Homo sapiens: one gene and its partners. The protein of the gene in region 5 purifies or fractionates together with the protein of the main gene of each other region. This does not show direct contact. Each region holds a gene or a part of one and is shown on either strand. Other genes may lie near its edges. The genes, in order: MTPAP, WDR37, BTN1A1, PACS1 and ATG4A.

Evidence for each region.
Region 1: the proteins of ATG4A (region 5) and MTPAP purify together in Homo sapiens (affinity purification with mass spectrometry; one large-scale study listed by BioGRID and IntAct). This does not show direct contact.
Region 2: the proteins of ATG4A (region 5) and WDR37 purify together in Homo sapiens (affinity purification with mass spectrometry; one large-scale study listed by BioGRID and IntAct). This does not show direct contact.
Region 3: the proteins of ATG4A (region 5) and BTN1A1 purify together in Homo sapiens (affinity purification with mass spectrometry; one large-scale study listed by BioGRID and IntAct). This does not show direct contact.
Region 4: the proteins of ATG4A (region 5) and PACS1 purify together in Homo sapiens (affinity purification with mass spectrometry; one large-scale study listed by BioGRID and IntAct). This does not show direct contact.

The regions. Positions count from the first base shown.
Region 1 is NC_000010.11:30,334,949-30,340,984, forward strand, and holds part of MTPAP (poly(A) RNA polymerase, mitochondrial precursor), read right to left. Parts: intron 5,503-6,036; coding exon 5,278-5,502; intron 2,080-5,277; coding exon 1,855-2,079; intron 1-1,854. UniProt on the Homo sapiens protein: Polymerase that creates the 3' poly(A) tail of mitochondrial transcripts. Can use all four nucleotides, but has higher activity with ATP and UTP (in vitro). Plays a role in replication-dependent histone mRNA degradation.
Region 2 is NC_000010.11:1,054,199-1,060,772, forward strand, and holds the start of WDR37 (WD repeat-containing protein 37), read left to right. Parts: upstream 1-2,186; 5' UTR 2,187-2,770; intron 2,771-6,574. UniProt on the Homo sapiens protein: Required for normal ER Ca2+ handling in lymphocytes. Together with PACS1, it plays an essential role in stabilizing peripheral lymphocyte populations.
Region 3 is NC_000006.12:26,505,170-26,511,205, reverse strand, and holds the end of BTN1A1 (butyrophilin subfamily 1 member A1 precursor), read right to left. Parts: coding exon 6,000-6,036; intron 4,524-5,999; coding exon 4,374-4,523; intron 3,257-4,373; coding exon 3,236-3,256; intron 3,146-3,235; coding exon 3,119-3,145; intron 2,706-3,118; coding exon 2,032-2,705; 3' UTR 781-2,031; downstream 1-780. UniProt on the Homo sapiens protein: May function in the secretion of milk-fat droplets. May act as a specific membrane-associated receptor for the association of cytoplasmic droplets with the apical plasma membrane.
Region 4 is NC_000011.10:66,071,682-66,077,717, reverse strand, and holds part of PACS1 (phosphofurin acidic cluster sorting protein 1), read right to left. Parts: intron 1-6,036. UniProt on the Homo sapiens protein: Coat protein that is involved in the localization of trans-Golgi network (TGN) membrane proteins that contain acidic cluster sorting motifs.
Region 5 is NC_000023.11:108,138,568-108,144,603, reverse strand, and holds part of ATG4A (cysteine protease ATG4A), read right to left. Parts: intron 1-6,036. UniProt on the Homo sapiens protein: Cysteine protease that plays a key role in autophagy by mediating both proteolytic activation and delipidation of ATG8 family proteins.

The DNA of each region.
Region 1 (6,036 bases), on a different chromosome or scaffold from region 5:
AGATAACAACTTAGAAGCAGAATTAAAAGAATGGTTAGCAAAGCTAAAATGCCACTAATTAACATGTGAAACATATAGAACTTTTGTAAGAACTTAGAAAGAACATTTGTGGGAAGATGAATATAAGTTGTCTCAAAATATTGTTTGAAATATCAACTGGACATCCACATAAAGTCTGATGTTCACTACTAGTTTGAAAGATGTAAGGAAAGATACAGCCATAGAAACTAAACATTTTATAAAAACACATAGCCTTGGCCGCGTGTGGTGACTCACGCCTGTAATCCCAGCACTTTTGGGAGGCTGAGGTGGATGGATCACCTGAGGTCAGGAGTTCAAGACCAGCCTGACCAATACGTGAAACCCTGTCTCTACTAAAACAAAAAAATTAGCCGGGCATGGTGGCCCCTGCCTGCAGTCCCAGCTACTTGGGAGGCTGAGACAGGAGAATTGTTTGAACTTGGAAGGCGGAAGTTGCTGTGAGCCTAGATCACGTCACCGTACTTCAGCCTAGGCAACAGAGCAAGAGACTCTATCTCCAACAAAAAAATAAAAATAAAAATAAATAGCCTTTTCAACACTGTAATTAAATTAAGACATCATTTATATTGTTTGGGAGGATGGAAGAGACACTGGTTAATTTTACCATTAGACATCGTGTTAAAGAGAACATAAATGGAAGAAATAATATCCAAACTTGAAAGAGAAAAAAAGGGTAAGGAGGAAAGTGCAGGAATAAAGCAGGAGTAATCCAATAAAAGGAAGAAAGAAAGTGAAAAGCTGCTGGGAAGTGGCCCATGCCTGTAATCCCAGCACTTTAGGAGGCCGAGGGGTGTGGATCACCTGAGGTCAGGAGTTCAAAACCAGCCTGACCAAGGAGGTAAAACCCCGTCTCTACTAAAATACAAAAATCAGCTGGGCATGGTAGCAGGCGCCTGTAATCCCAGCTACTCAGGAGGCTGAGGCAGGAGAAATCACTTGAACCCGGGAGGTGGAGGTTGCAGTGAGCCGAGATTGCACCATTGCACTCCAGGCTGGGCGACAGAGTGAGACTCAGCCTCAAAAAAAATAAATAAATAAAAGAAAGTGAAAAGCAAAAGCACAGAAAATAGGAAATAAAAAATAAAACAGGAGAAATTAGTCCAAGAATTATCAGCAGTAACAATAAACATATTGAACTCAAAGACTGATAGACTGGAGTAAAAGCATACTGCTATTTATAAGAGATACACCCAAACTAAAATAACATATATAAAGGCTGAAAATAAAGAAACAGAAGACATGTGAGACAACTACCAAGCGGCCATATTAACAAATAAAATAGAACTTAAGAAAAAAGTATTTATAGAGATGAATAAAGCATGTATGAGGGATATAATAATAAAACAATCTAATAAGGAAATATGATGATCGTATACCTATATGTAGCTAATATAGCCTTTGGATAAAACAAAAATCAAAAGAATTTTAAAGAGAAATTAACAAAACCAAGAATCATGAGATGTAAAAACATCTCAGTAACTAGATCACAAGATTAAAAAGAAAAAATTAGTTAAGATACATAATTTGAATAACACAATAGGTAACTTTGACTTAACTGAAAAATTTCTGAACACTTGAAAACAATTAACTATTTGATTGCATATCTACAGAATATTCACAAAAATGATCACATAGTAGAACAATACAAAGAAAGACTTCACCAAAGAATCAATAACAAATACACCTTATTCTTTAACCACAATGTTTAATAAGTTTAGAAATCAACAGTTCTATTTTATTAAGTTCAAAGATTTTTCTTTTTATACTTTCTTAACTTTACATGATTATAGTGGTCAAAAGAAATAGACTTACCTTGTGAGCGCTGAGGTTTCTGGTTTCATCTAGATCCAAAAACATGTCCAAATCACATCCTAACTTCCCAAAAGTGTTGACTGAGGAGCCAAAGGGTCTGACTATGCAGTCTGGAAAATACGCGGCGGCCATGTCTTCAATAAGAGAACAGGTGAGATATCGGAGCTTAGTGTTCTCCTCTGTTAGCTGGAACTCCTTCAAGAGAGTGTTCAGCTGATCGTCTATCTAGCTAGCCGAAACAAAACCAACAAAATAGAGAAAAAGTACAGGTCGCATAAAAAGTTACCATTTTACTTTCAAAGATTTGGTGGCGTTGAAGACCTACCTTAGAAATATGCAAAGCCTGGCGCAGTGGCTCACGCCTGTAATCCCAACATTTTGGGAGGCCAAGGCAGGTGGATCACCTGAGGCCGGAATTTCGCGACCAGCCTGACCAACATGGAGAAACCCAATCTCTACTAAAAATACAAAATAAGCCGGGCGTGGTGGCGCATACCTGTAATCCCAGCTACTCAGGAGGCTGAGGCAGGAGAATCGCTTGAACCCAGGAGGCAGAGGTTGTGGTGAGCCAAGATCGCACCATTGCACTCCAGCCTGGGCAACAAGAACAAGACTCCGTCTCAAAAAAAAATACTCTTTAAAAACCACTGAGAAGGCCAGGCGCGGTGGCTCATGCCTGTAATCTCAATACTTTGGAAGGCCAAGGCGGATCATATGAGGCAAGGAGTTTGAGATCAGCCTAAGCAACACAGCAGGACCTCGTCTCTATTTCACTAAAGAAATAAATTATATAATATTTTAAAATTTTTAAAAAGCTCTGAGGAATGCCACTAGCAAAATGAAAGTTGGCTAGAATTAAAACTTTGTAAGCGATGAGTATAAAGTATTGTTTTAAGAAAATGAAAGTAGTAAAGTACTCCAGAAGAGGTTAAAACAACCACGTTAGACATTTTAAACTCAAAGGGATGAAAGACCAATGTTAAAGGGCAAGAAAAACTAGAAATACTCAAGTAATGAAGGCCCAAGACCTCTCAGTTTCTCAGAATAACAATCCTGTCTATCCACTAGAAGACTGGCATTAAAATGATCACATACTGAAATTGTGTACTGGAGTATCTGAAGTGAAAAAAAATCGTAACTTCAAATGCTCTTATTTGAAACCAACATTGAAAATATCAACTGGCTGGGCACAGTGGCTCACACCTGTGAACTACTGGGAGGCCAAGGCGGGAGGATCGCTTGAGCTCAGGAGTGAGACCAGCCTGGGCAACGTGATGAAACCCTGACTCTACCAAAAAAAAAAATACAAAAACTAGCTGGGCATGGTGGAATGCATCTGTAGTCTCAGCTACTCAGAAGGCTGAGGTGGGTCACTTGAGTCCAGGAGTATGCAGCTACAGTGAGCTGAGATTGCACCACTGCACTCCAGCCTGGGCAACAGAGCAAGACTCCACCTCAAAAAATAACGTAACATAACATAACATAACAACATAACATTAACATAACAACATAACATTAACATAACATAACATAACGTAACATAACTGAACTGAACTGAACTAAGCATTCAACTCAAAAATAATAAAAGAGGCCGGGCTCGGTGGCTCATGCCTGTAATCCCAGCACTTTGGGAGGCCAAGGCAGGCAGATCACATGAGATCAGGAGTTAGAGACCAGCCTGGCCAACGTGGTGAAACCCCAAATCTACTAAAAATACAAAAAATTAGCCAGGTGTGATGGCGCGTGCCTGTAATCCCTGCTACTTGGGAGGCTGAGGCAGGAGAATCGCTTGAACCTGGGAGGCGGAGGTTGCAGTGAGCCACGATCAGGCCATTGCACTCCAGCCTGGGCAACAAGAGCAAAACTCTGTCTCAAAATAATAATAATAACAATAAAAGTAAAGGAAATAGATTAGAAGCAAAAATTTTCTTATTAGAAAATTAAACCTTGAAAATAATATTTTGATAAATAAAGCCATGAGTTGATTCTTTGGAAAGACTAGCAAGGTCTGGCAAGTCTGAGTAAGAAACACCAAGACAGGCCAGGTGCAGTGGCTCACGCCTATAATCCCAGCACTTTGGGAGGCCAAGGCGGGCGGATCACAAGGTCAGGAGATCGAGACCATCCTGGCTAACTCAGTGAAACCCCGTCTCTAATAAAAATACAAAAAATTAGCCGGGCATGGTGGTGGGCGCCTGTAGTCCCAGCTACTTGAGAGGCTGAGGCAAGAGAATGGCGTGAACCCAGGAGGTGGAGCTTGAAGTGAGCTGAGATCACGCCACTGCACTCCAGCCTGGGCGACAGAGCAAGAGTCCGTCTCAAAACAAAAACAAAAACAAACAAACAAAAAAACACCAAGACAAATACAAACAATATTTGAACACAGAAGAGACAGAATCTTGGGCCGGGCGTAGTGGCTCACACCTATAATCCCAGCAGTTTGGGAGGCCGAAGTGGGCACATCACCTGAGGTCAGGAGTTCGAGACCAGCCTGGCCAAAGTGGCGAAACTCCGTCACTACTAAAAATACAAAAGTTAGCTGGGTGTGGTGGTGCACACCTGTAGTCCCAGCTACTTGGGCAGCTGAGGCATGAGAATTGCTTGAATCGGGGAGCAGTTGCAGTAAGCCAAGATCATGCCACTGCACTCCAGCCTGGGCAAGAGCGAGACTCCATCTCAAAAAAAAAAAAAAAAAAAGAGAGAGAGAATCAGAAAGAAGACATTTTAAAATTGACAGAAAACCATGTACAATTTTATGTCATTATGCTGGAAAGAGAAAGAAAACCTAAACTGTTCAAAAGGCCGAAAACTTCAGAAGAATGTGGTTACCTGTAAGTACAAATGGGGCATGGCGGGGAAGGAGCAGACAAGGATTACTATCACTTTTCATTCAACATATCCTGTAGTTTGAATTTTTAAAAGCAATCCCATTTATTTATAGAGATATTAAAATTGTAATAAAAATATTAGCACGACAAATGTAATAATGCATTTTTGTAAATACACCTTGACTAAGTAGGGTTTATTCTGTGAATGCAAGAATGACTTGACATGAGGAAATCTACAGTGAATCTACAATTCACTACGTTAAGACATTAGGAGGGGAAAGAAAAAGACATTAGGAACCATATACAATCTCAAGACCATATGCCAGTCATCAATACCATCTCAAATGTCAAAACTCAACATCTACTCAATGTGTTGAGCATGACGACATTCTTAGAAAGCTAGAAATAGAAAAAAACTTTCCTTCATCTCATTATGCATCCACCACCACGATTCATCTCCGTAACTCTTTTCACCTTGTAAAACTGAAGATCTATACCCATTAAACAATAATGTAGCTTGAACATTTTACAGGAATCTTTATTGTTCATAAAAAAATACATAGTTCTAAAAGTTGAGGTACACCTAAAAACTTACACTTTCTGCATAACAAAGTAATTCAAAAAGCTGCTTGTTTGAACGTGGCAACTGATTACTTGACCGTACGCGTGACCGTTCAGAAGTCTGGTTTTTCAACTTCAGATTGAAGAAACGTGATCTGAATGGAATTGCAGTCTCCATGGCCGTGCTTGGAGTATGAGTCCCATTCTGCAGTGAACCTATGCTTTCCTTTTGGCAAAATTCTACGACAGCATAGAGACCCTATACCAAAAACATAAGAAAAAACAGAACACATTTCACGATATATCTAACATACTATTTTAGCTCATATATTAAAACAATTATCATAATGCTACAAAATATCAAGTCTTTAAAATTTACAAATGATATGATTCTAACATAGCATTAATTTTATTCAATTTAAGTAGATGAAGAAAAGGAACACTGGGCCGGGCGCAGTGGCTCACGCTTGTAATCCCAGCACTTTGGGACATGGAGGTGGGCAGATCACCTGAGGTCAAGAGTTCAAGACCAGCCTGGCCAACATGGTGAAACCTCGCCTCTACTAAAAATACAAAAATTAGCCAGGCGTGGTGGCAGGTGTCTGTAAGTCCAGCTACTTGGAAGGCTGAGGCAGGAGAATCGCTTGAACCCAAGAGACGGAGGTTGCAATGACCCAAGATCATGCCACTGCACTCCAGCCTGGGCAACAGAGTGAGACTCCATGTCAAAAAAAAAGAAACGGAACCTTAAAACAATGTTAGTTAAGAGAAGCTGAAAAGACTGAAAAGAATG
Region 2 (6,574 bases), on a different chromosome or scaffold from region 5:
CATGCAGGGCTGCCACAAACCTCCACTTTGTAAGAAACATATGATACCTGTGAAGTGCAATAAAGTGATACACATGAAAACAGTTGTGCCTGTTACATGACATATATACACACATATATATAACTTGAGAATTTAGGAAGCGACATGTCAAACAGCTTATAACACTATAGTGTACTATCCAAGTGTTTGAGACACAGTTAAAATAATCAGTAATGAGGACAATGACAGAATACCTAGTAAATCTTAATTCCCTATCAAACCATGCGCAAAAATGAGTCTTAGTAAATTCAGCATTGTTGCCCTATGTCAGGGACAAAGTACATGTATTTTGCATAGATGGACATGTGACAAAATAGAAATTGGTTTTCTGAGACAGGATTCTCCACAGCTTCTGCAGGAGGGAGAATGTAACTGGATACCAGGATTGCAATCATAACCTTTTATAATTTCGGCTAGTTTTGTGTCTTTTAAAAAAATTACATTGGATAGTTATTTCAGGATACAGTGTGTTATGGGTTAAATTGTGTCCCCCTTTCAAATTCATGTGTTAAAGACCTCACTTCCAGTATTTTATAATGTGACCTTATTTGGAAACAGGGTTGTTGTGGATATGATTAGTTAACATGAGGTCATATTAAAGTAGCGTCTACTGTACTCCAATATGACTGATGTCCTCATAAAAAGAACGCTAAGTGTGCAGACAGACACGGACATGGAAAACGTCATGTGAAGACTGGCGGGGGCATGCTGCCACAAGCCAAGGAATGCCTAGACGCTGAGATGCATTAACAGGCTCCCATCACAGCTCTCAGAAGGAATCAACCCTGCCAATACCTTGATTTGGGACTTCCAGTCAGACCTCTGACAATAAATTTGTTTAAGCTGCCTAGTTTGCAGTATTTTGTTCCTGCAGCCCTAGCACATCAACAGTGAAAAGAATATGGATTCTGATGCCAGCCTTTAGTCTTTGCCCTGCTGCACGATTATTTTTGACTTTTGACGAGTAATTTCCACATTCTCATGCTTAAAATTCAATTTAGAATAACTTTTACTTTATTGGATTCCTTTGGGGATTAAATTAGTTACAAAAGATGTAAAGCGACTGATCCTCAAAATGATTTCTTTCCCTTGTTTTGTGACATGTCATGCTCTCAGTTATTTTCAGTGACTTTTATGGAATCCTAAATATATCAACTTAAAAAATTACATTAGCGATATTCTTGGTGTTACCTGACTGTGGTGCGGTCCAGAAAAATAAAACCACCTGTTAGAATGCGGGTTAATTAGATGGGACACTGCGATTTACAAAGCTTTCTATTTGCTGCCATGCCCAGTACAATGTCTTTGCATACTAGGTACTAAATAAAATTATGTTACTTAAATGTCACAACCTCTAAAAGTTTAAAAAATGACTTCTCTAAAAACTCAAATATTTTTTTCCTTGGCGTTCCTCTTACAGAATTGTTTTTAGTGATAAAGTTTTATTAATATACTTAATGCAGAAATAACTTCACTTCTTTTTTTTTTTTGGTAATCTGGATCCCCTAAATAGAATGCTAAATTTGTTTCTTGTGCAACAAACAAGTTACCACTTCTGACTCTTCATCTTGAGCTTCCTTATTTTTTTTTGGAGACGGAGGCTCGCTCTGTCCCAGGCTGGAGTGCAGAGGCGCGATCTCGGCTCACTGCAACCTCCGCCTCCCGGGTTCAAGCGATTCTCCTGCCTCAGCCTTCCGAGTAGCAGGGGTTACAGGCGCGCGCCGCCACGCCCGGCTAGTTTTTGTATTTTTAGTAAAGACAGGGTTTCACCATGTTGGCCAGGCTGGTCTCGACCTCCTAATCTCGTGATACGTCGGCCTCGGCCTCCCAAAGTGTTGGGATTACAGGCGTGAGCCACCGCGCCTGGCCTTGAGCTTCCTTTTTAAAGGAAGGAGCAGGAATGTTAACCTACACAGAAAAAAAAAATGCTTTCACGCTCTTGATTTACTCTAGGTGGGCTTCAAATGCGCGGTTAGCGCTTTCTGTAGAGCGTTGAGACGGCTGTTTACGTAAAGACCATCATGCGACGTTTCCAACCTAGATTCTAAGAAAAAAGCGGCCCAAGTCCCACCTTTCGCAGGGAACAGCTGATTCTGTTTTTCCTTCCCAGCCAATGGTGATCAAAAGCTTCAGGACGCTGGTGAGTCACTGCGGAGGAGCCGAACACTGACCGCGCCGTCCCCGCCAGGCTCCCGCGCGGCCGGCACCGCGGCCCTGAGCGCAGGCGGCCCCGGGTCTCAGGCCTCAGGCGGACCGCGCCCCGGGCTCGCAGCCCTCCCGCCCCGGCTGCCGGGCTACGGGGCAGATGGACTCGGAGCGCCCCGCCGGTGAGTAGCTACGACCCCCGAGGCCACCTCCCGCGAACCGCTCGGCGGCAGGAGTACGTGACCAAGGGTGGGGGCGTTGGCCCAGCAGCCGAAGGGGTCTTCAGCGCGCCCAGACCCCTCGGGGCTGCGGGGCGGAAGCCGGGGCGTGACTTCCGGCGCCGCCGGGTGTGGGGCGGAGGTGTGGGGCGGCTTCCGGAGAACCCAGCGGCGCGGGACTGGGGCGGGACTTCCGGCGACACCGGAAGTGCATTAGCGCCAGGTTGGGGTTGTGGGGTCGCGTCAGTGCGGAGACAGCGGTGTCCTGCGCGTCTTCGGGTCAGTACGGGGGGCCGCGTCGTAGGGACTCACTGGCGGTGCGCGACCTGGGCTGGCTCCGGGGGTGGCGGGCGCAGCTGCTGTGACAGGTGAGTGCCGCCATCTTCCTACCTGTCAGGCGCCGAGTCGTTCCCCGGATGCCCCGAAGAGGAGTCGGGACACTGCAGGGCTCAAGGGGGTGCAGGGGCAGTCGGGGCATAGTGGCGGATGGGGTGCAGGTGGGCTTGGAATGCAGAGGGTCCGTGGTGGTGCAGGAGGGGTCGGGTCCCTGGAGGACCCGTGGCGGTGCAGGAAGGGCCGTGGTGCAGAAGGGTTCAGGGTGCAAGAGAAGTCGGGGCGCAGGAGTAGTCCGTGGCGGTGCCAGAGGGACCAGGGTGCGGGAGGGATGGGGGCCCGGGGCGGTGCAGAAGATGTCGGAGTCCAGGAAGAGTCGGGGCGCTGGAGGGGTTGGGGGCAGAAGGGTTCGGCCCGGGGTCTCTCCCCGCCCCCTTTGCTTCGGCCTGGGCATCCCGGGGAAGTGCGTCTCCAGGGAAGCACTTGGGAGGCCCTTCAGAGAGGAGAATGGCCTTTCTTCTCTCCAAAGAGTGGGGATGGTCGGCTTCAAGAAGGGTGGTGAGTGTGGAGTGACGGATGCTGAAGTGATTAACACAGCGCCATGATATTGTTCCCCTTTTGAAGACTTCCTTTTCCTTCCCTTCCCCCTGAAAGCAGCCACCGCTGGAGGGAAACATTTTAAGACAGCTGTTCACCGGAATAACACAAGAGCAACAATAATAATGTACTCATTTACTAAACCAAGTTGAATAAATACATTTTTCCAGGTTGTGAGTGAAAATAGCTTAAGGTCTGCCAGGTTTTTAGAGATTTTGTCATTTAACTTAAACGCTAAAACATTCGTCCCTTGAAGCGGATACCATTATAGAAAAGTGTTAATTGCTTGGAAGTTTCATTTATTGAAGTTCAAGTGTTTTTCTCTTAAATTCAGTATGTTGGCCTGTGAGTTACGGTCATAAAAGTATTGCAGGAATTATTTACCTCTGAATGAGAAAGCTCAAGATAGTTATATCTCCAGGAACTTTCTTCGTCTTCTGAACTTCCCCCAACCCCAGCAGACACACACACTGTTCTGGTTACTTTCCTGATCAAATTCGAGTCTTTCAAAATAGCTTTTGATATGTCCCAGGAGTTAAACACGGTATGTAAATATGAACTCACCAATGTGGAACAAATGGAGTGATCTGTTATCCCCTGGGTTTAGACGCTGCCTTTCTATTAATACTGCTCACAGGAGACAGAGTAGGGACTCGTGTGCACTGGCCACGTCTCAACAGCAGTGTGACCTTGGGCAAGGCCTTCCTAAGTCCCGACTCCCTGTCCTCTAACATGGTGTTCATATCAGCCTCATTTTCTTACTGGGAAGGTTACGTTATGTAATATATGCCAGCCATTTTTGCAAAGTGCTGTATACAGGAGATCTTGAGTGAGTGTGTTTCCCTCCTCCTCTTTTTGGGTAGCTATGTTAGGCTGTTCACTTTGGGCATTTGCCCTGAACTAAAATCCCTAAGTCCCTTTCCCCAAGGTGAAACTAAGATAGAGTTTTCATATTTATCCTGTCTTATTCTTTTCAGGGAAAAGATTTTACATCTGTTGAATTTCATCCTTGGTTTAAAGTTGTTCTTTTAACTACTGAGATCTTTTGAAAATCTTGATGGCTATTTATCTGATTAATGGTATTTCCTAATTGATTGTCATCCACAGAATTGATGGTGTATGTATTCCATGCCTTCATTTCGTCAATGACAAAACATTTTAAGCAGGTTAATACTGATGACAGATTTCTGAGGTTGCCTGTAGAGACCATTCTCTTCCTCGATATTGCTCAGAAGTTGAATTTGGTGTCTCAGCCCACTAGGAATTCGTCTAACAGTGTTATTACGATAAAATGTTACTACAAACTTGATTAAACTTCTGGTGGAAATTCCATCACATTTTATGCAATTTTCAATTTATTTCTCCAATTTATTTTTAATGCCACATGGACATTATATTCCTTAACCATTCTTTTGCATGTGATTAACATTTGTGAAATTAACCACTTAAGCAAGTGTTTTTGCTTTGATGAAAGAAAAATGTTTAAAATCCTACTGGATATGAAACTGAAAGTAATGTTTTGTGTTTTTTGTTTCAAATGAAAGTGTAAATTAAGAATTTGTTGGCAGGGCGTGGTGGCTCATGCCTGTAATCCCAGCACTTTGGGAAGCCGAGGTGGGCAGATCACCTGAGGTCAGCAGTCCAAGACCACCCTGGCCAACATGGTGAAGTCCCGTCTCTACTAAAAATACAAAAATCAGCTGGGCATGGTGGCGGGCACTTGTAGTCCCAGCTACTCAGGAGGCTGAAGCAGGAGAATCACTTGAACTCAGGAGGCAGAAGTTGCGGTTAGCCGAGATCACGCCACTGCCCTCCAGCCTGGGGAGACAGAGCGAGATTCTGTGTCAAAAAGAAAAGAATTTGTCGTATTGCTGTTTCAAGCTACTTTGGTTATGTTATCTGCCTTCCTCAAATTATACACACTTAGGAGAATGATAATTTCTATAGCTACAAATTAATTAATATTGGAAATATTGAAAAGAATCTGGCCAGGCGCAGTGGCTCATGCCTGTAATCCCAGCACTTTGGGAGGCTGGGTCAGGTGAATCATGAGGTCAGGAGTTCAAGACCAGCCTGGCCAGGATGGTGAAACCCCGTATCTACTGAAAATACAAAAAATTAGCCAGGCGTGGTGGTGGGTGCTTGTAACCCCAACTACTCAGGAGGCTGAGGCAGAGAATTGGTTGAACCCGGGAGGTGGAGGTTGCAGTGGGTCGAGATCGCGCCACTGCACTCCAACCTGGGCGACAGAGCGAGACTCTGTCTCAAAAAATATATATATAAAAGAATCTTTTGAGAAAGAGCAGAAAGCTAAGTGTTCATTGATGCTGTTTAATATTACAGCATTTCTGTCACGCAGGCTGGAGTGCAGCGGCATGATCTCAGCTCACCACTGCCTCCACCTCCCAGGGTGGAGCAATTCTCGTGCCTCAGCCTCCAGGGTAGATGGGAGGCGTGTACCATCACGCCCAGCTGATTTTTGTATTTTAGTAGAGACGGGACTTCACCATGTTGGCCAGGCTGGTCTTAAACTCCTGACCTCAGGTGATCCGCCTGCCTGGGCCTCCCAAAAGGCTGGGATTACGGGCATGAGCCATCATGCCTGGCCCAATATTACAGCATTTCTAAAGATGAGGAATTCAGCTTGCTAACACAGTGTGTTTATGGGTTTCATTAATTAGTCGAATGTTTGGCCAGTGCCTGCTGTGTGTAGAGCACTGTGCTGCATCACAGCTGTGTGCCTGTTGTTCTGACTGCTTACAAGCAGTGGGGTGTATTACGTACACGGCAACATATACTAAGGGCAGGTGAACTGGACAGACTAAATGAGTCAGGAGTTCAGAAGGAGCGTTTATTCTGTTAAATCCATGGTAGGATAAAGAGATTGAATTTTTAGAGGGGACTATTTATAGTTTCTTGAAAATAATGTTTTATTGAAAACCAGAAGGACATTTAATCTCCATAAGCCTTCTTTGTAATATGGTAATCTGTCCAATAATATTGGGTAAATGTGAATATTTTGAAGGAAAATAATTACGTTTTGGAATCTCAGGTTTCTCTTTGCTTGTATTTAGGTAAAACAGTGCATAGAGGTTAAAGAAGGTTATATTTGGAGTGAAGAAGTTTGTTTTTTCTCTTTACAGTTCTATAATCAGTTTATTAGTGTTTAGTCTGTTAAATACAATCGGGTGCCACATAACAAATGATGTTTTGGTCAACAACAGACCTCATGTAAGATGGTG
Region 3 (6,036 bases), on a different chromosome or scaffold from region 5:
CTCTCCTCCCCCGTCCCTGCTGCTGTCTTCCTTCTGCCATGGCCATGTAAGATGTGCCTGCTTCCCCTTCGCCTTCTGCCATGATTGTAAATTTTCTGAGGCCTCCCCAGAAGCTGAGCAGAAGCTGTCATGCCTACATAACTATGAGCCAATTAAACTTCTTATCTTTTTTTTTTTTTTTTTTTTAAATGGAGTCTTGCTCTGTCACCCAGGCTGGAGTGCAGTGGCGCGATCTCAGCTCACTGCAACCTCTGCCTCCCGGGTTCAAGTGATTCTCCTGCCTCAGCCTTCTGAGCAGCTGGGATTACGGGTGCCTGCCACCACACCCGGCTAATTTTTGTGTTTTTAGTAGAGACGGGGTTTCACCATGTTTGTCAGGCTGGTTTCAAACTCCTGACCTCGTGATCCACCCGCCTCGGCCTTCCAAAGTGCTGGGATTACAGGCATGAGCCACCGTGCCCGGCCTAAACTTCTTATCTTTATAAATTACCCAGTCTCAGGTATTTCTTTACAGAAATATGAGGATGGACTAATAAAAAATTGTTCCTGAGTTGAGATTCTGTATTCCTGCTTGAAGACCCTGGTAAGCAGTTGTTCCCTCATGAGGCATCAGCCCCCATGTGCACCTGCCCTGGTGAGCCCACTGCCATCAGGCCTAGGGATGGGTCTTAGACCACATACAATGGCAAAGCTTTAGACAGCTGCATTCCCATGCAGGTTTCTTGCCCTATGTTTTATTTTGTTTCAGTTGATATTAAAAAAGAAAGGTTAAGAGGTTGCTTTCAGCAATCAGACAAACTTATTTATTAGGTAAAGACGATGAGCAACGTCTATCCTGGAAACTGGAGAATACGATGGAAATGGAAGGTATAAGCCTGGAGTCTATTGGCAAGACAAGCCACATGTGTAAAGGAAAGTGCTCAGGGGCAAATACACAGGTGCAATCAGTCCAGCTGCACTGAACACAATGATGCAGCATTCAGGGGACCCTGAGGAGAGGCAGCATGTAGGAAAGCTGGGTAGGGAAAGTGAAAGGTGCACAGTGTGGAAACGGAGGCAGTTGAAGCTAACTGAAGGTGTGTGTAAGGGGTTTGGGCATTGAGATGAGGGCTGAGGTGACATAAGGTTGAGATGGTGACTGAGCAAGTGGTGATATCACTGAAGGATGACTTCTAGGAATGTCTTTGAAATAGAGAGATGCTATAACAAAAAGAAGAGGACAACTGGAAACTTGTGGATCAACAAATTGAGGGTGGAATGACTTCCAGGCAAGGGAGAAACAGGAGGGCGCAGAGAAAGGAACAGGGTACAAAGAACAGCTGTGCAAACAACTTTTGAGTTTTGTCAAAAATTCTCTCCTCTATCACGCTTTCTGCCTGACCCTTCATCCCTGCTCATCTCAGTTCCTCTCTGCTCTCCCTTTTCCACAGCTCAGACCCATAGAAGTGGGGCCAGTCTCCTCTGTCCTATAGGACGTGGCTTAGAAAATTTGCGATATAGGCTGTGAAAACTCTATGGATGAGCCAGGTGTTCATCATGTGCCTGGATTCACCTCACTTCCCTCCATCATAATATTCCCTCCAAGTTCCTTTATGGGATTTCAGCCTGAGATTGTCCTTTCACAGCACATTTTGAATTTTCCACTTGCCTAAAGCCTGTTTTTCCACATACCCTTATCCTGGATACCAAGATATTTCAACCACAACCCCATGCTAACCTGACCCAATCTCGATCCCTAATCTGTCCTTTGAGTTTGCTCCAAGTAGTTTCCTATAGGTTCTAGTCTTAAGGGATTAGGAGAACACTAGAAGCAGTTTGAGTCACCCCTCCATCCCCCAAATATTGGTACAGAAACAGATTTGGAAGGTGCAATCCCCACCCTCTCTAGCAGCAGCAATGTAACCTTCACAGGATTAATTAATTGCCACCCAACAGGAAGAAACAGACTGGGTAAAGCTAGCAGGTGAAGCCTCAGAAGGCTATGGAGGAGAGGGGTTAGAGGAAAGGAAAACAGATGAGCTGAGATATTCCTTAAGGTGCCCCTTGGCTGGGTTGGGTAGGGATTAGCTTAGAATGGAGAGTGTCTGCATCCCTAGGGGCAGAGTCCTCCCCCATGGGGGACAATGGGATCTCCTTAGAAAGGTCCTGGGCATTAGCAATGACTGTGACCCTCTCAGGCCCATCAGCAATTGGGCAGATGGTCAGGGGCTTTTTACCGCTAGACCATAGGCAAAAGAAGGGCCGGAGGGGGCCAGAGAAAGTGACATTGGAGAAAGTATAGATATCAGATCCATCATTCATGTTGTAGAAGGAGATGTCTCCTGATTCATAGTCTAGGAAAATCCCAACCCGGCGTGGGGGCCCTGCCAATGGGAGAGGGGTCCGGAGAGGAGTGAGGGCCCAGTACCCATTTCCATACAACTCTACAGCCCAGAACCCATTCTCAGGAGTCATGGGGTCAAATCCTTTCTTCATCACATTCTCCCTACACACGCCGATTGCCCAGTCAGTCCTGTCTCCCACCTCCACCTCCCAGTAATGCCTTCCTGAGGTGAAGGTCTCACGGCCCAACACACAGGGCCAGGAGTCAAATCTCTCTGTTTTCTCAGGCAGTTTCTGACGTGAATCTTCCAGTCGAACAGATTTTGAATCCTCATAAAGAAAGAGGTGGGGATGAGCTGTGTCTGGGTCCAGAGTCACATCAACTGGAGAGAAAGAAACAGCAGGTCTGACATCAGTGAATATTACAGGTTGCAGGACTGTCTTTCCTTCTCCTAAGAAACAGAACACTGTTGTAGGAGTTGACAGGTCTTCTGGAGGTGGGGGGATGTTTGGCCTGCTCAGGGGTCTCCATTCACCACAGGATCCCCCCTTACCAGCAGCCAGAGGGTGATGTAAGAGCTAACTGTGCCTAGGGCCTAATGGGACTCTGTCGGAAGTGCCATCTTCCAAGGGTTCTCTATGTGCCTCACAGAAACTGTTGAGGCCATCTGTCATCACCGTTTCCCTTCCTGTCCTCATCACTAAAGTGTTAGTGTTTTCATTTCCAAGTATCATAGCACTTTGAATTCCTAGGGGATAGAGCCTCAGAGCCCTAGAGAAGTTCAGAGCCACTGACCTGCATGCAAGGTAGCCTTTTTCCATTCTGCAACAAAAGAGAAAGATAGTCATTGACAGGTTATATAATAAGAGAGAGAAAACTCTGTGGGTGAAATAACAAGAAGACAGAACTTACTGAGTTCTTCCAGGAGTCTCTCTGGAAAACAAACAAAAATACCTCAATGGCTTTCTATAGTGGACGTAAAGGAGGGGACAAAACTCGTGTGGGAAACACACAAAGGAGGAACTGTTTAATTCATGACTATTTGAATATTGAAGCATTGCCAATAAATCAAGAACAAGGATTTTGTTTTGCTTTGTTTTCGAAGAAAGATGCAGGAAGTTCCTACATATTGGAACTGGCTTGGGATCAGATTTTTTTTTTATAGAATCTCATTCTGTTGCCCAGTCTGGAGTGCAGTGGTGCAATCTCTGCTCACTGTAACCTCCATCTCCCAGGTTCAAGCCATTCTCCCGCCTCAGCCTCCCGAGTAGATGGGACTACAGGTGTGGGCCACGACCCTGGCTAAATTTTGTATTTTCATTAGAGACGGGGTTTCACCATGTTGTCCAGTCTGGTCTTGAACTCCTGGCCTCATGTGTTCCACCCATCTCGGCCTCCCAAAGTGCTAAGATTACTACGGGCATGAGCCACTGCGCCCGGCCTCAGATCTTTAATAATAAGATTGGTACTGGGCAATTGAGTTAAAAGTGGGAGTAGGGTCTGAGGGTGGGTAGTGAGTAAACATCAGCCCTGATATCTTGATTAGACTCTGCCTATGCCCCAATCCTCTGTGCTTCTTCATATTGGCATCTGTGACTTCAGGACCCTTATGATTTCCTCCAATTTTCAGAATTCTAGAATCAAGTATCTTCTACTTTTTTTGAGACGGAGTCTTATTCTGTCGCTCAGGCTAGAGTGCAATGGCACGATCTCGGCTTACTGCAACCTCCACCTCCTGGGTTCAAGCAATTCTCCTGCCTCAGCCTCCCGAGTAGCTGGGATTACAGGCACTCACCAATAAGCCTGGCTAATTTTTGTATTTTTAGTCGAGATGGAGTTTTGCCATGTTGGCCGGGCTGATCTCGAACTCCTGACCTCAGATGATCCACCTACCTCGGCTTCCCAAACCGCTGGGATTACAGGCGTGAGCCACCATGCCCAGCCTCAAATATCTTCCTGTCATCCTAAAATAAGTCATTCTAAAGGACTTGGATCCAGCCTGCCTCTGAAGCACTCCTGACACGTAGCCCTTGTGGATTCTATGGTTTACCTTTAGAGCTGAATTCATTCCTCCTCTCTCTGGGTCTTTCGTTGTATAGTCTCCAAGTGAAAAATATGGACCCAATGGTGAGAAGTCCTAGAACCATCAGGATGACAGCCACAGCCACTATCCAGGGAGTCAGCCTTGGGAGGGAGGAAGCTAAAACAAAATCCCCAAGAAGGACATTAGTTGAGAAATTCTGAGCAAGTCCAGCTTTTCTCCACATTCCAAAGGAGGGTAGAAGAGGTGATGGCCTGGACCACTCTCATCCCTCATATAGCAAAAAAATAGTCACTCCAATGCCACTCTAAACTTTTCAGAAAAAAATTGACTTCAAGCAGGAGTCAGCAGAGAAAGAGAGAAATGACGAGTAATTTTGGGACAGGACCTGTGAAATAATAAATATAATGGACCAATTCATGTCATTATGGAAATTCTTCCTTAACTATCAGTGCAGAATGGGAGCCAAGAGGATGAAGGAGGTAAATAAGGAAGGGGAAGTGTGCCTCTGTATGTAACAGAATGGGACTCATTGACCAAAGAATAAGGAAAGGTTTCTGCCTGAACCAGAGACAGTATCTGGGGAATAATGAGAGGATTTTCTTCCCTGAGGACCCTGGAAACCTAGACAGAGCCCTAGCATGGGATAGGAAGGAGAAGTGAGTATGGGTGGAAATGGCAAAAGTAGAAAAATAACTTAGTCTTTTTTTTTTTTTTTGAGATGCAGTCTCGCTCTGTCACCCAGGCTGGAGTGGAGTTCAGTGGCGCAATCTCAGCTCACTGCAAGCTCTGCCTCCCGGGTTCACACCATTCTCCTGCTTCAGCCTCCCAAGTAGCTGGGACTACAGGCACCCGCCACCATGCCTGGCTAATTTTTTTGTATTTTTAGTAGAGGCGGGGTTTCACCATGTTGGCCAGTATGGTCTCGATCTCCTGACCTTGTGATCTGCCTGTCTCGGCCTCACAAAGTGCTGGGATTACAGGCGTGAGCCACCACGCCCGGCCAACTTAGTCTTTTTGTTTACTTGAGGAGAGAAGGCTCTGGATCAGGAAGGCCTCCAGGGACAAAGCTTCTCTATCTCACTTAGATCTCCTGAAATGGAAAATCTGGAATTTCACTGGGTGTGATGGCTCACACCTATAATCCCAGCACTTTGGGAGGCCGAGGCAGGTGGATTGCTTGAGGCCAGAAGTTCAAGACCAGCCTGGGGAACATGGTGAAACCCTGCCTTCGCTAAAAATACACAAAATTAGTTGGGCACGGTGGTGTGCACTTGTCGTCCCAGCTATTCTGGAGGCTGAGGCAGGAGAATCGCTTGAACCTGGGAAGCGGAGCTTGCAGTGAGCTGAGATCATTCTGCTGCTGCACTCCAGTCTAGGCAACAGAGTGAGACACTGTCTCAAAAAATAAATAGATAAATAATCTGAAATTTATTTGAGATCAAGGTAGGTTTATGTCTTCAGTATCTTAACTCTTCTAATAAAGTTGGTGGGGTTCCCTTAAGTCACTGGAAAAGAGCTTAGGTGGGGAAAGTAGACAACTCTGCCATGAGGTCACATCTGGGCAGGTGTCCCAGGTGGTGTGGCTCTGAAGCTGTGTCAACATAGGAATCCAGCAGCATTGGTTCCACTAACCTGGTATGGATATTTCTACTTTCTTCTCCTGGCCAAG
Region 4 (6,036 bases), on a different chromosome or scaffold from region 5:
AAAAAAAAAAAAAACAAACTTACAATTTAAAAGGATCTGCACAAAATTAAATAAACAAACCTGCCATCAACACTATTTTATCACCTATGCCTCACCATCTACCTCAACACAAGGAAAGTAATGACTTAGAACATTCTCTATTCACCCATTTTTGTTTGAGACAGGGTCTTACTCTGTTGCCCAGGCTAGAGTACAGGGGCGAGATCATGGCTCACTGAAGCCTCGACCTCCAGAGCTCAAGTGCTCTTCCCACCTCAGCCTCCTGAGTAGCTGGGACCACAGGCGCACGCCACCACACCTGGCTAATTTTGTTTATTTTTTGTGGAGAGGGGTTGCCATGTTGTCTAGGCTGGTCTCAAACTCCTGGGCTCAAGTGACCCTTCCGCCTCAGCCTCCCAAAGTGCTGGGATGATAGGCATGAGCCACCACGCCCAGCCTTGGAATGTTTTAATAAACTATTTTCTAGAAGTTTTCTAGATGTGTTTCATTGGTTAGCTGTCTGTTCTACTGCGATTCCCAAGGTCAAGAGGCAGGGTGCAGGTCTGCCTAAGTGGCGATCCCTGAGTTGTGACCAAAGCCATTCTCTGGTTTTTAATGAGATAACGGGGAACACAGGTCCAGCTGACTGCCCTGTGAACATCTATAAGGGGTAACACTCTAGAGCTGGTGCATATCTTGGTCTCTAAAACCTTTGGAAGCTGGTTATTCCTCTATCTAGGTCCACAAAGAAGACCCTGTCAGTGCTTGCCAACCTAAGAGACTGCCCACCTTGCTTGATGGCCCTCTGAAAGAAGTTCTAAGTCCAACTCCAAACTCTGACTTTCCTCAAGAGCCCTCAATATCACCTCAAGCCCTGTGCTGGAAGAAGACCAACGTTGGCAAATCATTCCCACAGCTACGCTAGATTCCCACGGAATTTCCGGAATGTGACAACATGGGTGCAAGCCAGGCCAACACCAAATTTCAGAGGACCCACCATGTAGATGCATGCTGGCATCTACATCAACACCTTCAAGTCCAGGCCAGTCCAGGCACAGTGGCTCACATCTGTAATCCCAGCACTTTGGGAGGCCGAGGCCGCCGGATCACTTGAGGTCAGAAGTTCGAAACCAGCCTGGCCAACATGGGGAAACCCCGTCTCTACTAAAAATACAAAAATGTGCTGGGTGTGGTGGCGTGCGCCTATAGTCCCAGCTACCTGGGAGGCTGAGGCTCAAGAATCCTGGGAGGCGGAGGTTGCAGTGAGCCGAGATCGCACCATTGCACTCCAGCCTGGGCAACAGAACAAGACCCTGTCTCAAAAAAAAAAAAAGTCCAAGTCCAAACTGGACAAGCCTCCTGAACTGAGGTAGTGAAAAGACGCAGCTCTAACATTTTCTGAGGCGTACCCGCCCTCATTCCAGCACCTACAACAACAGTGACAACTTACTGGCTTAGCTAAGAAATTGGAAAACTAGTTTAGAAAGAAATCACATAACCGCTAAGGTGTCCAAAAGATCTGTAAATCAATACATGTAAAATGGACTCTGTGAAAGTCATTATCTTTCTAACTCATGTAATCTGAGCTTCCACAGGGACGATGGATACTATTACCCTGATAGAGATGATATTCTATTACAACACTCACAATGTGAAATTCAAATCTCCTAAGGTACAAACATGCTTTTAAGACTTTTAATGTGGCTGAGCGCGGTGGCTCACGTCTGTAATCCCAGCACTTTGGAAGGCCAAGGCAGGTGGATCACGAGGTCAGGAGATCGAGAGCATCCTGGCTAACATGGTAAAACCCCGTCTCTACTAAAAATATAAAAAATTAGCTGGGCGTGGTGGCGGGCACCTGCAGTCCTAGCTACTTGGCAGGCTGAGGCAGGAGAATGGCGTGAACCCAGGAGGCAGAGCTTACAGTGAGCCAGATCGCGCCACTGCATTCCAGCCGGGGGACAGAGCGAGACTCCGTCTCAAAAAAAAAAAAAAAAAAAGGACTTTTAATGCTAGGGTAGTAATAGAAATTTCATCAGGTCTTTCTTATTTGATCAATTACATTTACTTTATACCTATAATTTAAGAAATACTTTCTCCCATGCTTCTATAGATCCAATTTTATATATATTTCATCCACATCTAAGAATGGATGGTAAGTAAAAGTATTCCCATAAAGATGAAAAAACTAAGGCATGGGCCAGGCACAGTGGTTCACACCTGTATCCCAGTACTTCGAGAGACTGAGGCGGGAGGATCACTTGAGCCCAGGAGTTCGAGACCAGCCTGGGCAACACAGCAAGACCCCATCTCTACAAAAAAATCTTAAAATCAGCCTGGCATGGTGGCAAGTGCCTATGGTCCCAGCTACTCAGGAGGCTGAGGTGAGAGGAATGCTTGAGCCCAGGAGGTCTAGGTTGCAATGAGCCGTGATTGTGCCACTGCACTCCAACCTGAGTAAAAAAGCAAGACTGTGTCTCAAAAAAACAAAACAAAGGCTGGGCATGGTGGCTCACGCCTGTAATCCCAGCACTTTGGAAGGCCAAGGCGGGCAGATCACAAGCTCAGGAGATCGAGACCATCCTGGCTAACACAGTGAAACGCCATCTGTACAAAAAAATACAAAAAATTAGCCAGGTGTGGTGGCAGGCGCCTGTAGTCCCAGCTACTCGGGAGGCTGAGGCAGGAGAATGGAGCGAACCTGGGAGGCGGAGCTTGCAGTGAGCCGAGATTGCACCACTGCACTCCAGCCTGGGCGACAGAGCGAGACTCCATCTCAAAAAAAAAAAAAAAAAAACACCAAAAAAAAATTAATAAAATTAAACTAATGCATGGAAGAGTTTGTCCTAGTATATAGTAAGAAGATAGAGTAGTATATCTTGGCTCGTATAGTGCTTCTGTGGTTAAAGGGGCAAATGCCCCCAAGCGTTTTCATGAAAGTAACACTTCTGCTGCAGACCAGTCATGCCAACTCAGCTATGGCCACCTTCTGTGATTCCAACGCTTTTGTCCATTAAGGCTTGACCTCAGCACCCACTTAAAAAAAATGTGACCTAAGGAGAAAAGTGACTGATAACTGCCAACTCCTACCCTAAGTTCACATACACATAAGGGTATGCAAATGGGCTTTGGATATGGTTTGCGAATGATACAGCAGAGCACATTTCATCTCTTAATAATCACTTTTATGCCACTGAGGAAATTTTGAATGCTTGTAAAATTTAGTAATTTTTCTGCCTCTCCTACTTACAGCAACACAAAAAGAAAAGAACATCAGGGAAACCTCACCATACAAAGGCAGAAGGGAAGGGATCAACAATGAGGCTCTAACACCCTTCCTTTAACATCAAGCAGCATGCCACCTGGTCCCCATAACCCTGCACCACGGTCCATGCCATACTGGACCATAGTAGAGGAAGTACTACTTAGCATGAAGGGAAAACAATGCTAACTTCTAAAGCTTGAATTTCATAAAAGATAAAGGAACTATAGCAAAACTACCTTTTTGTAACAGAATCTTAAAAGCCAACTGTATTTCACAGTGATTACCTCTGGGAAGTGAGAAGAGGGATGGACTGGGGGCTTTTTCCTTTGTGCTTTCCATCTTTCCATACTGCTCAAATTTCTAATCATGGACATATATTAATCATTTTGTCTTTAAAAAAAATGCTGGTAAAAGGCTGGGCACAGTGGCTCACACCTGTAATCTCAGCACTTTGGGAGTCCGAGGTAGGAGGACAGTTTGAAGCAAGGAGTTCAAGACCAGCCTGGGCAACATAGTGAGACCCTGTTTTTAAAAAAAAAAAAAAAAAAAAAAAAAAAGCCAGGTGTGATGTCACATGCCTATAGTCCCAGCTACTTGGGAGGCTGAGGCTGGAGGATTGCTGAGCCCAGGAGTTGGAGGCTGCAGTGAGCTATGACTGTGCCACTACACTGTAGCCTGGATGACAGAGCAAGACTCCATCTAAAGAAAAAAAACAAAAAATGCTGGTGAAAAATGTGATCAACAGAACAATTTCATTCTTTTAAAACCAGCTGTGAGTAAGCTATTCACCTATATAAAGTTTTTCAAAAGTACTATGTATTCTGGGGGAATTTAACAGATGTTAAATAAGAGCAGACACCTACCTGAAGAACAACTACACTGCTCTTTATTTAAATATCTAATACAGGAAACGGTATTTTTTTCAAAAGAAAATTATATTTTGACAGGCATCAAGAAAAGCAGCAGGACCTTCCTAACACTGTACTGTTCGAGCCCCTCTTCTCTGCCCTAAGAGACCAAATCCCATGACATTCTTATGCACACCTAACCTTAGATCCACAATCATGTTTACATTTCTAAGGGGCATGTATCTCATATATTTGTGTCCCGTTTGAGTTACATGAGACAAGAATGTTAATCCCTCCACAGAGTGCTGCATGTTGCCTATATATTCTAAACAACATGAACAAGGACACCCAGGAGACCTCAAATTAACCAGATGACTCTAATAATTGGAAAGACCAATGGCAGGCCATTTTCTCCCCACAGAGTGTTATTCTGGCCTGCAAAATGCTCAAAGAGCACATGTGTTCCACAAGGAGTGAGGAGGTACAAGGGTGATGGATGAAAAACAATGTCGGAGCAGGACAGTGGACAAGCTCAAGGACTGGTCAGTAAACGTGACGTAACTGCACACTCCCGGAATGTAAAAATAAGTCCGCCTAAGCCTCTCACAGCAAGTTAGCATAATAATTATACATTTGATCAGGATGCCTGGCTGTTTCTTAGGCTAATAATTTATTACGTGGACTTTGCAGTGACCAAAAGACCTAGGGGCAGACCAAACATCAACAGCAGTCAATGATTTCATTCACGCCCCTCTGCTGCAGCTCCTTGCCAGTAGGCTCGCGCCTTTTCAACCTAACGAGATGGAGAAGGCAGCTGCCCAAACGTCACCAAACACAGGCATGAAAGTGAAGGAGAAATGGGAAAGACTGGACCCACGTAGGAAGGAACACAGTGTTTCTATGTGTGAAAGAGGTGGGTTAGGATACTTCAGCGATAGATGGGCCTGTATAGAAAGAGAGAGGCCTGCTTAGGATCAAGAGAGGAACACCATCACATACTCAACTCTCGCTTGAGCTTGGTGTTGTGCTATGGATCTGGCCACAGCAAACTAAATTAATGTGGCTCCTGATTTCCCTAGAGAAAGGACAGAGAAAAAAAAAACAATGTGTAAATCTGTTAAGTGATGTGGAAACACAGAGTGGAAGCAGCCTGTGGAAACAATCTACTTTTGCCTAGTGAAGTCCCAGATCTATACCCTGCGAGCGGCAATCCCACCCCTCCATATGAATACAACCTAAAGAAACTTCTGCACAAGAGCACTAGGAGTCCTGGGGGGAAATGTGTGCATTACTGTGGGTGTTAAACAGGAAACAACCTACATATTCAAGAGAATTACGGTATATTCATTCACACAACAGAATACTACCCATCATGAAAATATTTAAACTATGGCTACCATACCACATGGATGATTCTCACAAACCTAATGCTGATTTAAAAAAAAATAAAAAAACCAATCAAGTCACAGAACACATACAGGATGACACCATGTACACAAACTTCAAGAACATTCAGAACTATAAAATATATAGAGATGCATTATGTAGTAAAACTAATTTTTTTCTAACAAGGGAAATGATAAACACAATTCAAAATAGTGTTTACCTTTGTAGAAGGAAGAGGGGAGACAGTCAGGAAGGGGCACCCTGAGAGCTTCAACAGAAGCGATAATGCTCTGTTCCTTAAGCTGAGCGAAACAGAAAGATGTACTCTCATCATTCCTATCTGGGATATATATATAAAACAATATTATCCAGAATAAAGGTGGGGAAAGGAAGACAGTCGAGGGGGGAGCCCAGCAATCCTCTCTAACTCTGACTTACACATCCGTCTGCCTAACCAACAGTGAGGAGACAGCCCAAGACTTCAAGGCAACAGAATCAACTCAGCTACAAGGTGACAAAAAAGAACACCTCCAGGCACTTCTCTGGGCTTTCTGGGTG
Region 5 (6,036 bases):
CCTCTTTCCCCAGCCACCCATGTCATCACCCAATGGGCCCATGAACAAAGTGGCCATGGTGGCAGGGATGGAGGTTACACACGGGTTCAGCAACATGGACTTCCACTCACCAAGGCTGACCTGGCTACAGCCCCTGCTGAGTGCCCAATTTGCCAGCAGCAGAGACCAACACTGAGCCCTCAATATAGCACCATTCCTCAGGGTGATCAGCCAGCTACCTGGTGGCAGGTTGATTATACTGGGCTTCTTCCATCACGGAAAGGGCAGAGATTTATCCTCACTGGAATAAACACTTAGTCCACATATGGGTTTACCTATCCTGTATGCAATGCTTCTGCCAAGACTCCCATCCATGGACTCACAGAATGCCTTATCCACCTTCATGGTATTCCACACAGCTCTGACCAAGGCACTCACTTTATGGCTAAGAAAGTGTGGCAGTGGGCTCATTCTCATGGAATTCACTGGTCTTACCATGTTCCCCATCAGCCTTATCCAACATCATGGTATCCCACACAGACTCTGACCAAGGCACTCACTTTATGGCTAAGAAAGTGTGGCAGTGAGCTCATTCTCATGGAATTCACTGGTCTTACCATGTTCCCCATCAGCCTGAAGCAGCTGGATTGATAGAATGGTGGAATTTCATTTTGAAGTTACAATTACAATGCCAACTAGGTGACAATACTTTGTAGGGCTGGGGCAAAGTTTTCCAGAAGGCTGTGTAAGCTCTGAATTAGCATTCAATATATGGTACTCTTTCTCTCATAGCCAGGATTCACAGGTCCAGGAATCAAGGAGTGGAAGTGGAAGTGGCACCACTCACCATCAGCCCCAGTGATCCACCAGCAAAATTTTTGCTTCCTGTTCCCCCGACATTACGTTCTGCTGGCCTAGAGTTCTTAGTTCCAGAGGAAGGAATGCTGCCATCAGGAGACACAACAGTTCCATTAAACTGGAAGTTAAGATTGCCACCTGGACACTTTGGGCTCCTCTTCCCTTTACATCAACAGGCTAATAAGGGAGTTACAGTGTTGGTTGGGGTGACTGACTTGGACTATCAAGATGAAATCAGTCTACTACCCCACAATGGAGGTAAGAAAAAGTATGCATGGAATACAGGAGATCCATTTGGGTGTCTCTTAGTATTACCATGCCCTGTGATTAAGGTCAATGGGAAACTACAACAGCCCAATCCAGGCAGGACTACAAACGGCCCAGACCCTTCAGGAATGAAGGTTTGGGTCACTCCACCAGGAAAAAAAACATGACCTGCTGAAGTGTTTACTGACGGCAAAGGGAATACAGAATAGGTAGTAAAAGTAGGTAGTCATCAATACTAGCTACGACCACGTGACCAGCTACAGAAACGAGGACTGCAATTGTCATGAACATTTCCTCCTTCTTTTGTTAAAAATATGTTTGTGCATGTATACACTTGTACTAAGAAAATATTCTCATTTTATTTCCTTTCTCCTTTATCATGTGACATAAGATTTATTGACTTCACATCAGCATTTAAGTATTATTAAGTTCATGTAATAGTATTTGGGTTGGGGATTGGTGCGTTTCCAGTTGTACGAAGGATAGTTGTATTATGTTAGGCAAATTATGACCTTATTATTGTCTTTATCTGAAGATGATGTATGATCTCAGGATATGTATATGGGTTCAAGTTGACAAGGGGTGGACTTGTGATGGCTAATACTGAGTGTCAACTTGATTGGATTGAAGGAGACAAAGTACTGATCCTGGGTGTGCCTGTGAGGGTGTTGCCAAAGCAGATTAATATTTGAATCAGTGGGCTGGGAAAGGCAGACCCACTCTTAATCAGGTGGGCACAATCTAACCAGCTGCCAGGGTGGCAGGCAGAAAAATGTGAAAAAGAGAGATGGGCCTAGCCTCCCAGCCTACATCTTTCTCCATGCTGGATGCTTCCTGCCCTCAAACATCAGACTCCAAGTTCTTCAGTTTTGGAACTCAGACTGGCTCTCCTTGCTCCTCAGCCTGCAGATGGCCTATTGTGGGACTTTGTGATCATGTGAGTTAATACTTAATAAACTCCCCTTTACATATATATGTGTGTGTGTGTGTGTGTATGTATGTTATATACACACACACACATATATATATTCACACATATATATGTATATATATTCCATTAGTTCTGGCCCTCTAGAGAACCCTGACTAATACAATCTGTCTCCCAGGCTGGAGTGCAGTGGCACAATCTTGGCTCACTGCAGCCTTGACCTCCTGGGCTCAAGCGATCTGCTTGGAAGCGATCCCCATCCCAGCCTTCCAAGTAGCTGGGTCTATAGGCATGCGCCACCACATCCAGCGAATTTTTTGTATTTTTGGTATAGACGGCATTTCACCATGTTGCCCAGGCTGGTCTCGAACTCCTGAGCTCAGGCGATCCACCTGCCTTGGCCTCCTAAAGTGCTGGGATTACAAGTGTGAGCCACTGCGCCTGGCCACAAGCTGCCACAAGCTGCATCATTTCTGAGAGTGCTTATAAGAGATATAGTACACTTAGGATAATGGCCTCCAGCTCCATCCATGTTGCTTCAGAGGACATGATTTCATTACTTTTTATGGCCACATAGTATTCCATGGTGTATATAACACATTTTATTTATCTAATCATCATCCATTGGGGTACAATGCTCAATATTTGGGCGACAGGTATACTAGAAGCCCAATCCACACCATTACACATGTAATAGCCATGTAACAAACAAACACATGTACCTCCTGAATCTGGAACAAAATTTTTTAAAAAAAGATATACAATAGATGTAAAAAGCTCTAGAAATGATCTGGGGACTAAACAAAGGTCTCCAGTGAGACCTGGAGTGAAAAGGCAGGCTGACCAACCACCTGCAGAGACAGGGCTAATGCTATGGATCTCCAGGTGGAAACCTATACCCAAGTGCAAGGAACCAACATCTCCTTCTCTCTAAGCAGGCAAAATTTGAAGGCCAGAGTGTCATCCTGGCCATATCCTCCCACACCTAGAGCTCTCTCAGCTTCCCACTGGGCAGGAGGGCCCTGGGGGAGCAATGGAAGGTGGTAGGTAGAGATGATCAAATTGGGATCGACTCTTGGCTTCACCACTTTCTAACAGAATCACCTTGAAGAAATAACTTTTTAATCTCTCTTAATTTTAGCTCTTAGTTTCACTGCATGTAAAACAGAAATAACAGTCTCTACCTCACAGAAATATTGTGTGTATTCTTGATTAATAATCAAGTAGATAGGATGACCCATTCTGTGGACACCACTCAGCCTTTTTCCTCAGCCACCCGTGTCATCACCCAATGGGCCCATGAACAAAGTGGCCATGGTGGCAGGGATAGAGGTTACACATGGGTTCAGCAACATGGACTTCCACTCACCAAGGCTGACCTGGCTACAGCCCCTGCTGAGTGCCCAATTTGCCAGCAGCACAGACCAACACTGAGCCCTCAATATGGCACCATTCCTTAGTGATATATATATATATATATATATATATATATATATATATGTATATATATACACGTATATATGTATATATATGTATATATGTATATATATGTGTATATATACGTATATATATGTATATATATACGTATATATATGTGTATATATGTGTATATATGTATATATGTGTATATATATGTATATATATGTATATATGTATATGTACATGTAATACTTTGTGTATGTATTTGTATATGTAATACATTATATATATAAAATGTATATGTAATACTTTGTGTATGTATATGTAATACATTTTATATATATTTTATATATACATTTATGTTATATATTTATATATTATTTTATATATACATTTATATATACAATGTATTTTATATATACATTTATTTATATATACAATGTATTTTATATATACATTTATACATTTTATATATTTGTAAAATGTATATAATACTTTGTATATGTATATGTACGTATATGTAATACATTTTATATATATATTTTATATATATAATGTATATATATGTATATATATGTATAAATGTGTGTGTGTGTGTGTGTATATATGTGTAGACAGAGAGATAATATACTTTGCGAAGTCTCTGGAACAGGACAACTATTTAGAAAATGGCAATTTGCATCTCTTCCCTCCCTTCAGACATTCTGCCAATCTGGACCACTCAACCTCAAACAGTAAGGGTGTGAGTCAGAAAAGGGGAGTCAGAGGGACTTAAAGCCCTCAAGTGAAGTTTGCACAAAGGACTTATAAAAGTTAACAGGCAAATGGGCACTATGTGAACCTCTGTCTTGGGGTATTAAAGAACTGAGGATTGCCCACATCTTTTTAATGAGTAGTCAAACTTCACAAAAGCTACTCTGACCCAGTGGCCTCAAGAAACAGGAGGGCTACATCAACTTGGAGAAATTCTCTGTAGGTAACTTGGGATAGGGAGGCCAGGGCACCCAGGAATCACACACACTATTCACTGAGATTCCTCCAAAGTTATTTTCTAATCTGTTTCAAAGCTGTCCTCAAACACTGTTGTGGACTGAATGTTTATGTCTCCCTAAAATTCATATGTTGAAATCCTAACCCCCAGTATGATGGTATTAGGAAGTGGGGTCTTTGGGAGGTGATTTAGTCATGAGGGTGGAGCCCCTATGAATGTATTAGTGCCCTCATAAAAGAGACTCCAGAAAGCTCCTTTGCCTCTTCTACCATTTGAGGACGCAGCAAGAAAACAGCCATCTATGAACCTGGAAGTGGGCTCTCACCAGACACCAAATCTGCCAGTGCCTGGATCTTGGACCTCCAGCCTCCAGAACAGTGAGACATAAATTTCTGTTGTTTATAAAGCCACCTAGTCTATACTATTCTGTTATAGCCGCCTGAAGAGACTAAGTCATGCATGAGCAACTGGAAATCTATTTTTTGCAACATTTTCTTTGAACCCAAATGCTTAGGAACAGAGGGCATCTGATTTTGCAGAACTCCAAACACTAGGTTTTATACTTAGAAAAATAAAAGCCTTTACAGGCTCCACGTTTTCCATTTAGCTGTAATTCTTGGGCTCAACCAATAGATGGCAGCATTAGAGAGAGCAGAGGCAGCTGTGCAATCCCCACGCCCCGCTCCACACCCCCCAACCTAAAGAGAGGAAGAAGGGGCTGGCAAAGGAAATAGGTATTGGGGTAAAGCAAGGTGCAGCCACCTTTCAGTGACTGTCCTATATGCCTGGCTCTTTGATGAACACTTTACTGTAAGATGACAACAGGGCGAGTCAGGCATTAGCCCTATTTTACATAAAAGGAACCTGAGACTGAATATTGATATCTTTTTCCTGAAGTCACACAGCTAGCAAGTGGGGGATTGGCATGCAAAGCCACGTGTGTCTGTTCCCATCCCACCTCACCTCCCTGAATGTCCAAGAGGAGATGTGTTGGGGAGGATAACTAAGGCCATCTCCACCCTGTCCTTTGCACGTGCCCTCATGCCATTCCCTTGTAACTCCTGTAGCTCTCCTTTGTCTGTCAACCAATCTGACCTCATAACTTTCCTGAGGCCAAGTCTCAGACCATTCCACCCCTGCAACAGGTGTCCTGTACCAACTTTTCCTGGCCACATCACTCTCTAACTTATGCTCTTCAACACTAACCAGGTGTTTAGGCCCTGGGTATGCAAAGTGTGGTCTGTGGACCAGCAGCATCAGCACCACCTAGTTAGAAATGCAGAAACTCAGGCCGCACCCAAGACCTACTGAACCTGCACTCCAATAGGCTCTCAAGGTGATTCATGTGCATGCTAAAGCTTCAGAAGCACTAGGCTAGCTTACCTTGTGTACCAAGGACCTCAGATGTCTCTGGTCACAGCTAGTGAGTAAAGAGACTGGGTTTCCAGAGGTGCCTTCCTATGCAGGGAATGTTGGGTTGCTTGCTCGGGTCCACATTAAGAGGTTAGTGGTTTTAAGGCTTAGCCCCCATTCTCGGGAAAGGGGTACTTCTGTCTTTGCCTCCTCCAATTCCCAACCTGTCACAGCTCTGAAC